Homo sapiens: one gene and its partners. The protein of the gene in region 1 purifies or fractionates together with the protein of each later gene. This does not show direct contact. Each region holds a gene or a part of one and is shown in the gene's direction. Other genes may lie near its edges.

What was found. Proteins that work in one complex are often made in the same cells at the same time.
Region 2: the proteins of ZUP1 (region 1) and TEFM purify together in Homo sapiens (affinity purification with mass spectrometry, with the first as the bait; one large-scale study listed by BioGRID). This does not show direct contact.
Region 3: the proteins of ZUP1 (region 1) and KRT80 purify together in Homo sapiens (affinity purification with mass spectrometry, with the first as the bait; one large-scale study listed by BioGRID). This does not show direct contact.
Region 4: the proteins of ZUP1 (region 1) and HELZ2 purify together in Homo sapiens (affinity purification with mass spectrometry, with the first as the bait; one large-scale study listed by BioGRID). This does not show direct contact.

What each region holds. Positions count from the first base shown.
Region 1 is NC_000006.12:116,658,767-116,662,266, reverse strand, and holds part of ZUP1 (zinc finger-containing ubiquitin peptidase 1), read left to right. Parts: intron 1-1,420; coding exon 1,421-1,531; intron 1,532-1,897; exon of another isoform or gene 1,898-2,034; intron 2,035-3,342; coding exon 3,343-3,464; intron 3,465-3,500. UniProt on the Homo sapiens protein: Deubiquitinase with endodeubiquitinase activity that specifically interacts with and cleaves 'Lys-63'-linked long polyubiquitin chains. Shows only weak activity against 'Lys-11' and 'Lys-48'-linked chains.
Region 2 is NC_000017.11:30,900,863-30,903,238, reverse strand, and holds part of TEFM (transcription elongation factor, mitochondrial), read left to right. Parts: intron 1-2,376. UniProt on the Homo sapiens protein: Transcription elongation factor which increases mitochondrial RNA polymerase processivity. Regulates transcription of the mitochondrial genome, including genes important for the oxidative phosphorylation machinery.
Region 3 is NC_000012.12:52,189,215-52,193,252, reverse strand, and holds the start of KRT80 (keratin, type II cytoskeletal 80), read left to right. Parts: upstream 1-1,238; 5' UTR 1,239-1,350; coding exon 1,351-1,650; intron 1,651-4,038.
Region 4 is NC_000020.11:63,564,240-63,567,739, reverse strand, and holds part of HELZ2 (3'-5' exoribonuclease HELZ2), read left to right. Parts: exon of another isoform or gene 1-89; coding exon of another isoform or gene 90-112; coding exon 113-896; intron 897-1,286; coding exon 1,287-1,362; intron 1,363-1,508; coding exon 1,509-3,500. UniProt on the Homo sapiens protein: Can degrade highly structured RNAs through its concerted ATP-dependent RNA helicase and 3' to 5' exoribonuclease activities. Shows a strong preference for pyrimidine over purine residues for its nuclease activity.

The sequences.
Region 1 (3,500 bases):
GCCTCCTTGGCATTGGCTCTGGCTCTAAGGCATTTTATGGTAGAGAACTGGCTGAAAGACTTCTCTTACATCCGCCAGCATTACTTATGGAAGCTGTATACCATTATTTCTTACTGCTGCTTTTGGAAATATTTTCTGAGTACTTAATACTTCATTTTCTCTTGAGCTTTGCCATTGAATTTTTTATTCCAATGATTACATCTTAATATTTTCATTTTCTTCATCTTTCTATTTTTTCTTAGTAACTTTCTGTCCTGGTTTCAAAGATTCAGTTCCCTCCTTTATTTCAGTGAGCATTTTGAACATACTTATTTTACAGTTTATTATGGATTACTGTAGCTCCATTTCTTCACAGGTAACTTTTTCAGTTTGTAGATTTCTTAGCTGTTTTTCTTGGCATTGCAGCCCCCAGTGAGTTTAGCAATTCAAATTTTAGTGTTCATCTGTTATGGGAGTTTTATATGATCCCTTCCCTGTGAAGCAGTTTCATGGTTCCTTCACACTGGCTGTTCACAGTCTCTGCTTTCAGACCAGGCCTTACATATACAGATTGCTCTATGCTTTCACTCTGTGTATATGCACAATTCTGGGTCCCTCTTCTATGTCCCTTATCTGCTAGGTCTTGGTCTTATAGAGGAACAATTTCTGTTTTTGGCAAGCTAGACCTGTCTGCCTGCAGTGCTATGTGATGGATGCAGCTCTTTAATCTCCTGCTCCTGTGTAGACAGTATTACCCCAATTCCCAGCTTTATGCTGGATGTTTAAGTTCAGCACCTTACCACTCTGTTGGGTGCTGAGAATTTAGTCCTAAAAACCCATATCCAGACTGGGCCCTACTTACCACTTTGGTTTTCCTTTCTGCTTCTCTTGTTTTGACTACAGATCTGAATATTTATTATTAATATTTCCTTTTTTTTTGGAGTGGTATGAGAGGTTTGTGCTATGCTCAGCCTTCTATCTCGACCCTAGAAGTAGAAAAATAGCTTTTAAATCCACTACAAAGAGCTTTTACTTATATAAGGTTAATAGGTGGTAGACAGTCTTTGACATGGGGTGAAAAAATCTAAAAGTTATAAAAATAAAACCAACTTGGCTGGGCATGGTGGCTCATGCCTGTAATCCCAGCACTTTGGGATGCTGAGGCAGAAGGATCACTTGAGTCCAGGAGTTTGAGACCAGCCTGGACGACATAGTGAGATCTCATCTCTAAAAAAAAAAAAATTAGCTGGGCGTGGTGGCGCATGCCTTTAGCCCCATCTACTTGGGAGGCTGAGATGGGAGGATTGCTGCAGTGAGCCGTGATGGTGCCACTGCACGCCAGCCTGGGCAACAGAGTGAGACCCTGTCTCAAAAAAAAAAAAAGCAAAGAAAAAAATTAAAATAAAAAAATAAAAACAACTTAATTATATCTCTGATACAGACTGTGATCAACCACTCTATGATTGTCCTATGTGTGGGCTCATATGTACAAATTACCATATTCTTCAGGAACATGTTGACTTGCATTTGGAAGAAAACAGCTTTCAGCAAGGTATGTTTATATGTTTGAAGATAAAAATATCATTTAATTTCTACTTTCTAGGACACATATCTAATTTTTAGATTTGTGATATGGAAAAAATATTTTAAAATACATCTTTTCCTTTAAAAGTGTTTTATTTACAAGTTGAGGCCATTTCTTTAGCAGCTAGAAGTATCTGAATATTGTATTTGGTCAGCGAAAATTGTTGAACTAGAAAACTGCCATATGGCACATAAAATTTTACAAATGAATGTGAACTATATAACCAAAACATCTTTCAGTGCATCTTGAGCTGCTTGAATAGCTTCTAAATGACTTACTGGTTTTATTGTGATTCTATAAAAGTTTTCCTTTCTCCCCTATGTTTTTTAATAGTGGCATTGTTTAAATAATCATTATGGTGGCTTAGAAGTGGAAAAATCCTATATGAATGTTAGAAGCCCACTGAACGAAAATAAAAAGTAGATCCCAAGAGAAACCAATTGTGTTTTACCCTATTTCAGTTTTTTAAGGTACGTAGATAGCTTCTGTTAAGGCAGAGGTCTTTAGTGTCCAGTATCAATGATCCTAGTACCAGTATCGGTGTTCATGGACAATGTTACTGCTCACTCACCCTAAGCCAAATATGAGATTATTGGGGCAAAGATGGAAAAGTTCCCTGCTCTGGTGGTTTCTGAATGTCTGCTAATTCTTACTCTTATTTATGATAGGCTTTGTATGAGCACGTATATTACAGTGTAAACCTATAGTGGGTAATAAGAAAAAGATATGGTCTAAGTAAATCACTGTAGATAACCTCAGGGGACACTAAACATTGAGTGTGACTTGTATATCCCCAAGAATGGAAGGGTGACCAAATAGGAAGATGTAGCAGCAGCTGAGAACTTTGAAAGGAAAGGAAGAATAGTCAGTGATATAATTAAACCATCAGGTCATGGGGTTAAGGAGACAAGATAGTGGCCAGAAGCCACTGACAAATGGATCTGGGGGACACCGAGTAGAGAAGATGCAGGATGAGATGTTGCAAAGTTTTACCATTTTTGGGGGCCAAACTGTAATTAAATTATTATCTAACACCTGCACTTTGTAAATGTGTATTTTTATGCTCTTTATTTTTTTTTTTTTCTCCCCTAGTATTTCTTTGAAAAATCAATCTGCCTTAGTTATGTTAAGGAGTATCAATGCAGGATGTTACTTAACGTTTTAAAATTCTGGTTTCCTCAGTAAATAATAATAACTACTTCATAAGATTGTTACAAAGATCAAATGATATAATTAATGAAAAGTGCTTGTCACAGCTTTAAACACTTAGTGAGGCTGGGCATGGTAGCTCACGCCTGTAATCTCAGCACTTTGGGAGGCCGAGGCTGGTGGATCACCTGAGGTTAGGAGTTTGAGACCAGCCTGACCAACATGGCGAAACTCCATCTCTACTAAAAATACAAAAATTAGCTGGGCATGGTGGCAGGCACCTGTAATCCCAGCTACTCAGGAGGCTGCAGCAGGAGAATCACTTGAACCTGGCAGGCAGAGGTTGCAGTGAGCTGAGATCGCACCATTGTACTCCAGCCTGGGCAATAAGAGCGAAACTCCGTCTCAAAAAACAAAAAACAGTGACTGTTAGTTGTCATTTAGATGGAGGTTATTCCTTACCAAAGCAGTTCTAAGTTTTGCTAAATTTGTACTCAGTTCCATATCATCACAGTCATGAATAAATGGCAAATAACAGCATTTACTCTATTTTAAAAACATATATTAAATAATAAATAATCTTTGATTGCAACAGTTATTTTATTCTGAACATTAACAATACCTAACAGGCATGGATAGAGTCCAGTGTTCTGGTGATCTACAATTGGCTCACCAGCTTCAGCAAGAAGAAGACAGAAAGAGGAGATCTGAAGAATCAAGACAAGAAATAGAAGAATTTCAGAAGCTGCAGGTACAAAGATTAATAACAATTATAATATTTTGATTT
Region 2 (2,376 bases), on another chromosome or scaffold:
AAAAAAAAACACCATTCTAAAAGCAATTCTTTTTCTATTGTCTTAAAAAAATAAATACTAGAAATATTTGACACAGCCAATTTTTTTTTTTTTTTTTTTTTTGAGACAGAGTCTTGTGCTGTCGCCAGGCTGGAGTACAGTGGCATGATCTCACAACAACCTCCACCTCCCAGGTTCAAGCGATTCTCCTGCCTCAGCCTCCTGAGTAGCTGAAACTACAGGCACATGCCACCACGCCCAGCTAATTTTTGTATTTTTAGTAGAGATGAGGTTTTACCATGTTGGCGCCAGGATGGTCTTGATCTGTTGACCTCGTGATCCACCTGCCTCGGGCTCCCGAAGTGCTGAGATTACAGGTGTGAGACACTGCGCCCGGCCACAGCACTCAAGTATTAAACTTTAGAGGAACTCATGTCCTGTGTAACATTGCTTGATAATCATTATCTCATAAAAATCATAAGCACCATTTTTTTTCTGGACCAGTGGGTCCGTTTTTTGAGGAATATGGGTACTTTTGAAAACCTGATGAAAGCTGTGGACCCTCTTCCCATAGAAAAAGATATAGCACATATACACAGAATACTACACAGTTTCAGAGGACTGGCAGATTCTGTTAAGTCCACTCATGGACTCCAAGTAGAACTGCTGCAATTGATCTGGAACATATTTTAACCAAATTCTTCAGGGAGGATTCTCATCCAGATTCATGGCCAAAACTATTTATACCCAGATTAGAGTGGAGTTGCATCTTATTTAGGGGGCTGGATTTTAAGTCAGTTTTTATGGAGATATAAGTCATGCAGTAAAATCCTTTAAGAAAAAATCGATTGCCGACGAAGTATTGTGTGTAGTCTGGTTCAGTAATGCTTGTGCACAGTAAAGCTTGAGAGTCACTTAGCTAAAGAAAACCAAAAGGAAGTCTGTATTTTGGGCATCTATACTATTTTGTCTTTAAGATATTTATCCAGTCCTTAGCAATGAAAGGGAGATGGGTATACAACTAATTGTTCCTGTTTATTTGCCTCTGTATCTATAGAACATATTAGTTTGTTAATATAACTAAGTGAGCCATGTTGGGGAAAGGTGATAGCATTGTACTTCATCGTCAGCCCAGACTTGATAGGAAGCAAAATCTAAATATTCAATTACTTATTATATATCTCCTCTTAGAAGCCCTATAGGCAACCCAAACTTAATGCATTAAAAACAAACCAAAACAAAACAAAAAAATTTCTTCCCACCTTCCCTAGGTCATGTGACTCCTATCTTCGTCATCATTAATGATGCCATTCAGTCACTGATATAAAACTGGAATTATTCTAGACTCCTCGTTAAACCTATGTATTAATTCTGCTCCCACTATCTGTTTCTTTTCCTTCTGTCATTGTCTTCAATTCTTAACACTTTCTCATGTTGTAACAGGTACCTAACACAGATCCCTACCTTTAGTTCCCTCCAGCCCATCTTTTACACCATCAGTGATTTTTCTGAAATGTAAATCTTATGTTATTCCTTAAAATTCTGTTTTTTTAGTGGCCCCTGTAGCACTCAGGATAAAGCAAGTTACTTACCTTTATAGACATCTGCCTTGTCCTCTGCCCTTTTCCTATTCAGTCTTTATTCTACTGCCAGAGTGTGAGATGTCAAACAGCCTATCTTTCCAGACATCTGGGTGAAATAACTTCCCATTTACTGTCTCATTCTCCTAGTCCTCCAGTAAACCTTCCCTGACCACTTCTCTCTACAATAGTTTTATGGTGGCATTTCTTATAATGTACAGTTACGTTTGTTGTTTCCTAGTATCTAGTGCAGACCTTGGCTACACTTGAGTTTGAATGCCTACTTTGGGCAAGGTGCTGAGAATGAGTATAGGTCCTTTATCTATAAACTGACTGCTGCTGGTTACCTTTTAATAATAATTACTCCTTGGTGGCTCACACCTGTAATCCCAGCACTTTGGGAGGCAGAGGCAGGTGGATCACTTGAGGTCAGGAGCTCAAGACCAGCCTGGCCAACATGGTGAAACCCTGTCTCTACTAAACATACAAAAATTAGCTGGGTGTGGTGGCAGGTACCTGTAATCCCAGCTACTCAGGAAGCTGAGGCAGAAGGATTGCTTGAATCTGGGAGGTGGATGTTGCAGTGAGCTGATTGCGCCACTGCACTCTAGCCTGGGTGACAGAACGAGACTCCATCTCAAACAAAATAATAATTACTCCTGCATTTCTTTAATAATTCTCAGTTCATAAACTATAAATAAGTTTATATTACATAAACTAGTTAGGCATTCTGAATTTGTAGATTATGTTTGCATCTAAAATATTTACACTTCTGGCCAGGCACGGTGGCTCATGCCTGTAATCCTAGCTCTTTGGG
Region 3 (4,038 bases), on another chromosome or scaffold:
CCCAGACACACTCCTCTCTCTGCTCTGGCCCCTGCCACCCAGAGCAGGATTGAGCCAGGTCCAGGAAAGACATGCAGATCCAGCCACCAGGGCCAGAACATCAGGACCACCAGGCCAGGAAAGGAGACGCAGGGCTGGGAGAGCTGGTAACCCCCTGGGGTGGGAGAGTGGGGTCTCAGGAACTGTGGAAAGGTAGGCATTGCCCTGGGCCAGGTGGGCCTCTGCCGCCCTGTCAGAGGCTCTGTGGGGGCAAAATGGGGTCTTTTCTATTTCTACTTCACAGATGGTGTAAAAGAGGTCAAAGGAGGCAGAGAAGAGAAAGAAGAGTGGGGAGGAAAGAGTGTGAGGAAGGCAGGGATTCTCATTGCCCCAGAGCAGAGCTGCATTCAGCCATACCCATCGCCCCTGCTAGACTCAGCACCCGGAAGGCAGTACCACTGATTGAGGCCAACTTTGTCCCCTGTCCTCTACCAAGTGCTTTGTACATGCTACCTCCTGTGAGGTGGGTGTTTTCATCCCCACTTTACAAATGAAGACAAAAGTCAAGTAACGTGCCTGAGGTCACATGAGTGGTGAGCAGTCCAGCTGAGTCTTGAACCAGGTCTCACATTTCCAATGCTGAGAGCTCCTTGGCCTTGACCGTCTATGTCCTCCCAGCCTCTGAGACAGTAGGGTGTACATAGTAGGTCCTCAATCAATGCTAGTTAAAGTGAAGGAAGGAAGGAAGGGAGAGGGGGTAGAAGGAAGGGGGAAGATAAGCCAGGGAGACTCTTTGGCAGCCAGAAAATAAATAATAAGTGCTGTTTTCCAGTGCCAGGCTGGCACGGTGCCCAGGATAGCTGCCCTACACTCGGGAGCTCAAGGCCTATGCTTGACTCATCTTTTCCAGAAGTATGTGAGCCCAGATACGTCAGCCTTCAAGTATGCAGTGAGGTCTGCGGTGAGGCGCTCTCTCTTCTCTCCTGCCCCCTTGAATGGCCTTCCTTTTGCCAACTCCCCACCCCCAACCCACCCGGCCAGTCCAGCCTTGGCCCCCTCCCCAGAGCTAGGCCTGCTTTCTTTGGGGCAGGGGGCTGTGGACCAGCCCCCTAAGCAATGCAGATACCTGTTGGGAGGGAGACCTACATGCTGCTGGGGGAGGGGCGGGAGCACCCACATCATCCAACAGGTTGGTCAGGCTGGGAGGCGTCCCGCCCTCCTGCAGCTAATGAGCACTGTGCAACAGGTGTCTGCTCCTCAGTCCCCAGCCCGCCCCAGCTGTGACCAGAGCAACCAGAGCCTGCCACCCGACGCAACCCCAGGCTCACTCGCTCACCCCCCTGGGCCCTCCTGCTTCCGGCCGGGGGCACCATGGCCTGCCGCTCCTGCGTGGTTGGCTTCAGCAGCCTCAGCAGCTGTGAGGTGACCCCGGTGGGCAGCCCCCGGCCTGGAACCTCAGGATGGGACAGCTGCAGGGCCCCCGGGCCGGGCTTCAGCTCCCGCAGCCTCACAGGCTGCTGGTCGGCTGGCACTATCTCCAAGGTGACTGTGAACCCCGGCCTGCTGGTGCCCCTGGATGTCAAGTTGGACCCCGCTGTTCAGCAGCTGAAGAACCAGGAGAAGGAGGAGATGAAGGCCCTCAATGATAAATTTGCCTCCCTAATTGGCAAGGTGAGCACAAGTAGGGGGTCCCAAACATGAAGGGCTGCCAGGCCTGGGCCGGTAGCTGAGCTCTGTGTTTCCCTGAGCATCGATCACCGCGCCCCACCCCTGCACCCAGCCAATGGGGAGATGGCACTGCTAACCCGACAGGCTAGCTCTGAGCAGAGGCTGGGGGAGGGAAGTCCCTGATCCATCCTGGCATGTGGGGAGAAAGGGACCCCAGGATGGCCTTTGAGGGATGTGTTGATAATAACATGCTGCATGACCTGGGGTCACCCACCACCCAGGCAGGGACTGGGGAGGACCACCTAGTGTGGCCAGGGGTGCCCTCTCGCAGGAATGGCTGATGGAGGCATGCTCTGCGGTCCTACTCTGAGGCAAGTGGACAGGGGAGATGGCCTCCCAGGCACCACGCTCCTGTTTATCCCTCAAGCCTCTGGTCCCACAGCATCTCTCTCAGCTGCCCCAGTCAGAAAAGCCAGCAGGGTGGAGGGTGAGTGCGGGGCTGCTGGAAGGAGGTTGCTGCCCAGACTGCTGCAAGTGAGGGTGCAGCTCAGGTGTCAGGAGATAGGAATGCAGGGGACGATGCCTCGAGTCAGAACAGGGAAGCCAGTTGGGCCTTCCTGCACCCTGCGCCCCTCCTGACTGCGGGAGGTGCATCCTCAGCATCACAACCACACTTCCTAGACTCCACTACCCATGGCCTGCAACAGGTCTGGGGCACTCGTGTCCACCTCTGCTCCCAGGGCAAGGGAGCTCCCAAGGAAGTTATCCACTTCCCAAATCTGTTCTTTACTCATCTTCTCCAAGAAACTCCTCCTGACTCTGCACCCTCCTGCACCCTCAAGAATAATCATGATAGTGCCAGCTGCCATTGGTTAATTGCTTACTATGTGCCAGGCACTGTGCTGATGCTTTTCAGGTTTATCTGTATTTCTCTCAACAACCTTATGGGAGAAGACAATTTTATGTCCATTTCACAGATAAGGAAAACTGTACATTTCTGAACCTGCCAGTAAACCAGAGGTCCAGCCTTCAGCCCCTGGCTCAGTCCTTGTCTGCTCTTGGCCTCTGATTCTGTGTTCCTCTGCATGTTGCTGGTCTCCCCCATGAGGTGGGAGCTCACAGAGAGGGGCAGAGGGAAGAAAGTAACATGCATTGAGCATCTACTTATGCCTTGCCCTCTGGAGGAACATTGCAAATGCAATGAAATTCAAGCCACACTGCCACCCTGCAGTGGCTGTTATTTTCCCAACTGTGCAGATGAGGAAACTGAGGACCAGCAAGGCTAAGTGCCTTGCCCAAGATCACACAACCAGCAAATGGTAGTCTGGATTTGAACTCAGGTCTGTTGAGACACGAAGTCAGTGGTCTCTGTGGTGGGAATCTTTTCTTTCCTTCTTCCATTCATGTGCCTAGACCAGAGTTTCATCATCCACACCTGGGGTACCCCTGGGTACCCAGAGGGGAAGGACCACAGTCCACTGAGGCAGAGCATCCCTTCCCCCAGCCCTAACTGCACAGAGCCTTGCATTGCTGAGCTGGTTCTCCCTCTAAGAGCAGCCCAGCTGCCCTGGGGAGGCAGGTCCCTAAAGAGCCACCTCCTGACCAAACCCAGTTTAATCCCTTAGAAGGAATGCTTCACTGAGCTATGGAATTTGGCTCAGATGGGTGGTTTTCTCCCTCAAACGCCAGCACTGATATCACCCTGTGCCCCTGCCATGGGGATGGGAGGATATAAGCACAGGGAAGAGGCCCTCAGGGTTGGGGTCCTGTGCCCAGAGACCAGGGCAATGCCCTTGAAGTTCTTTAGCAGAATTGGAGCCTCCCAACCCTTAGCCTTGACCTTGAGATGGGGTGCCCTTCAGGGTGGGACACAGGGAGCTGTGGGTACTGGCCGTTTGGGGGCCCTGGTTGCAGGGCCCCAAGGGGCCCCAGCTGACCCTTCAACTCTGCAAAGATCTGTTAGCCCCACCCTCCTTGCCTCCTTGTGGAGGCTGTGAGGGCCCACATGGAAGCAGGAAGTGGTTAAGATGTGAAATCTGGAGCAGCATTGTGGGGTTTAAATCCCGGTCCACTACTGACCAGCTGTGTTGTCTCAGGCAGGTTATTTAACCTCTCTGTGCCTCAGCACACATTAGGTTAGCAGGCTCATTAGAATCAAATGGGAGAATTTTTGAAAAGAATTTAGAACATATCTGGTATATATTAAGTATATTATAACTGTTAAATAAAAAATGAAATAAATGGGCCTGGCCCAGGGAGCAGCTAGAACCCAGTTAGCCCCTTCCAGGCAGGAGCCTGGAGAGCAGGTGGGGAGAGGCTCCCTGCCGGATAGAGGAGTGAAGGGACTCATGGGCAGGAGGTACGGCGCAGGGCTGTTGAGCAATTATGGAC
Region 4 (3,500 bases), on another chromosome or scaffold:
GCCAGACAAGGGCTGTGCTCAGGGGCAGCTCGGCTGGGCACACAGTAGGTGCTTTAGCGGACAGCACTGAGGCCCCCAGCAAGAAGCCCATGAGCTCCTCCCCCTCCCGCAGTGCCGCCGACATCTACATCCGGGAGTATTTCCACAGCCACGTCAGCGGCGGCCACCCCGAGGCCACTCCTCTCCGTGTGATGTACACGGACCGGCCGCTGAGCCAGACGGACCCAGTCACGCTGCAGTACTGTTGCCTGACCGACGACCGCCAGGCTTTCCGCCCGCCCACACGGGCAGAGCTGGCGCGGCACCGCGTGGTGGTCACCACCACCTCCCAGGCCCGTGAGCTCAGGGTGCCGGTCGGCTTCTTCTCCCACATTCTCATCGATGAGGCGGCCCAGATGCTGGAGTGCGAGGCCCTCACCCCGCTGGCCTATGCCTCGCACGGCACCCGCCTCGTGCTGGCGGGCGACCACATGCAGGTCACACCCCGGCTGTTCAGTGTGGCCAGGGCCCGGGCGGCCGAGCACACGCTGCTGCACCGCCTCTTCCTGTGCTACCAGCAGGAGACTCACGAGGTGGCGCGGCAGAGCCGCCTGGTCTTCCACGAGAACTACCGCTGCACGGACGCCATTGTCAGCTTCATCTCGCGGCACTTCTACGTGGCCAAGGGCAACCCCATCCACGCCAGGGGCAAGGTTCCGCCCCACCCCCGGCACTACCCGCTCATGTTCTGCCACGTGGCGGGCAGCCCAGACCGGGACATGTCCATGGCGTCCTGGCTGAATCTGGCTGAGATTGCGCAGGTCGTCGAGAAGGTGCAGGAGGCCTACAACACCTGGCCCAGCTGCTGGGGCGGCCGCGAGCAGAGGTGCATCTGTGTCGTTTCCCACGGTGCCCAGGTGAGCCCGGCCAGCCCGGGACAGCCCCCGACCGCACCCCTGCTGGGGGAGGGGGAGCTCTCCGGCTGATGGACGAGCCCCCGCCTCAGTTTCCCCATCTGTAAGAGGGGGCTGCAGTATTTGCCTCCCAGGGCTGAGGTGGGGCTCGGCCCCTGAGGTGTCTGGAGCTTGGTGGGGGTGCCGTCTCCTTGTCGGGGGTGGCCCAGTCCTCACTGCGTCCTGCGCTCATCCCCGAGCTTGGTGGGGGTGCCCTCTCCTTGTCGGGGGTGGCCCAGTCCTCACTGCGTCCTGCGCTCATCCCCGAGCTTGGTGGGGGTGCCCTCTCCTTGTCGGGGGTGGCCGAGTCCTCACTGCGTCCAGCACTCATCCCCGGCCCTGCTGCGTCTTCAGGTCAGTGCACTGAGGCAGGAGCTGAGGAGGCGGGACCTAGGCCAGGTGTCTGTCGGCAGTTTTGAGATCCTGCCAGGTGGGTGACCAGCGGGGCCAGGTGCTGCCAGCTGCCCCAGGATACCCCGGGTGGCTCGGCCCACTCCTCAGCCTGGCATCGGCAGGGGTGGGGCTGGTCCCACCGTCTTGCGCACCCAGCCTGACCTGACTGCGTGCCCCCTGCAGGGCGGCAGTTCCGGGTCGTGGTGCTCAGCACTGTGCACACCTGCCAGAGCCTGCTCAGCCCTGGGGCACTGGCCCCTGAGTTCTTCACCGACGCCCGCGTGCTCAACACCGTCCTGACCCGCGCCCAGTCCCAGCTGGTGGTAGTGGGGGACGCCGTGGCCCTCTGCTCCTTCGGGGCCTGCGGCAAGCTCTGGGAGAGCTTCATCCGTGAGTGCGTGGAGCGGCACAGTGTCTGCCCCGAGGGCCTGTCCATGGAGCAGGTCGAGCAGGGTGTGGCGCAGAGACGGCGCTGGCCTCCCCGAGGCACACAGGCTGGGGCAGCGGGGAACTGGGAGGCTGCCCCAGAGCCAGTAGGGGACCTGGCCGAGGAGCAGGCGGCTGTGGTGACGGCCATGGTGAAGGCAGAGCCGGGAGATGAGGCTCTGAGCCCAGCATCCCGTGACATCACGGCAACCACAGCGCAGACGGAGGCTGCGGCAGCACCAGCAGGAGACGCAGTGAAGGAAGACGTGGTGCCCGGGGCCTGTGCGGCAGGAGCGGCTGCTGCAGCGGGCGTGGAGTCCACGGAGGCTGAGGATGCAGAGGCTGACTTCTGGCCGTGGGACGGGGAGCTCAACGCTGACGACGCCATCCTACGGGAGCTTCTGGACGAGAGCCAGAAGGTGATGGTGACCGTCGGGGAGGACGGGCTGCTGGACACTGTCGCCAGGCCCGAGTCCCTGCAGCAGGCCCGGCTGTACGAGAACCTGCCCCCGGCTGCGCTACGGAAGCTGCTGCACGCGGAGCCCGAGCGGTACCGCCACTGCTCTTTCGTGCCAGAGACCTTCGAGCGGGCGTCAGCCATCCCGCTGGACGATGCCTCCTCGGGCCCCATCCAGGTCAGGGGCCGCCTGGACTGTGGGATGGCCTTCGCCGGGGATGAGGTGCTGGTGCAGCTCCTTTCGGGAGACAAGGCGCCCGAGGGGCGGCTTCGGGGCCGCGTGCTGGGCGTGCTGAAGAGGAAGAGGCACGAGCTGGCGTTTGTGTGCCGCATGGACACGTGGGACCCGCGCATCATGGTCCCCATCAATGGCTCCGTGACCAAGATCTTCGTGGCCGAGCTGAAGGACCCATCGCAGGTCCCCATCTACAGCCTCCGGAAGGGCCGGCTGCAGCGTGTGGGGCTTGAGAGGCTCACCGCCGAGGCCCGGCACAGCCGGCTCTTCTGGGTCCAAATTGTCCTGTGGCGGCAAGGCTTCTACTACCCGCTGGGCATCGTCCGGGAGGTGCTGCCTGAGGCCAGCACCTGGGAGCAGGGCCTCCGCATCCTCGGCCTGGAGTACAGCTTGAGGGTGCCCCCGTCGGACCAGGCCACCATCACCAAGGTGCTGCAGAAATACCACACGGAGCTTGGCCGGGTTGCCGGCCGCCGAGAGGACTGCCGCGCCTTCTTGACCTTCACTGTGGACCCCCAGGGCGCCTGCAACCTCGATGATGCCCTCAGTGTCCGAGACCTGGGTCCCAGGTGCGAGGTGGCTGTGCACATCACTGATGTGGCCAGCTTCGTGCCCAGGGACGGGGTGCTGGACGTGGAGGCGCGAAGGCAGGGCGCTGCGTTCTATGCCCCCGGCAGGGAGCCAGTGCCCATGCTGCCGGCCAGCCTCTGCCAGGACGTCCTCAGCCTCCTGCCTGGCCGGGACCGCCTGGCCATCTCCCTGTTCCTCACCATGGAGAAGGCCAGTGGCCAGCTGAAGAGCCTGCGCTTTGCACCCTCCGTGGTCCAGTCTGACCGCCAGCTGTCCTACGAGGAGGCGGAGGAGGTGATCAGGCAGCACCCGGGTGCCGGCCGTGAGCTGCCGGCCCGCCTGGACTCCGTGGACGCCTGCGTCGTGGCCGCGTGCTACTTCTCTCGGCTGCTGCGCCGGCACCGCCTGCGGTCCGACTGCTTCTATGAGCAGCCGGACGAGGACGGCACCCTGGGCTTCCGCGCGGCCCACATCATGGTGAAGGAGT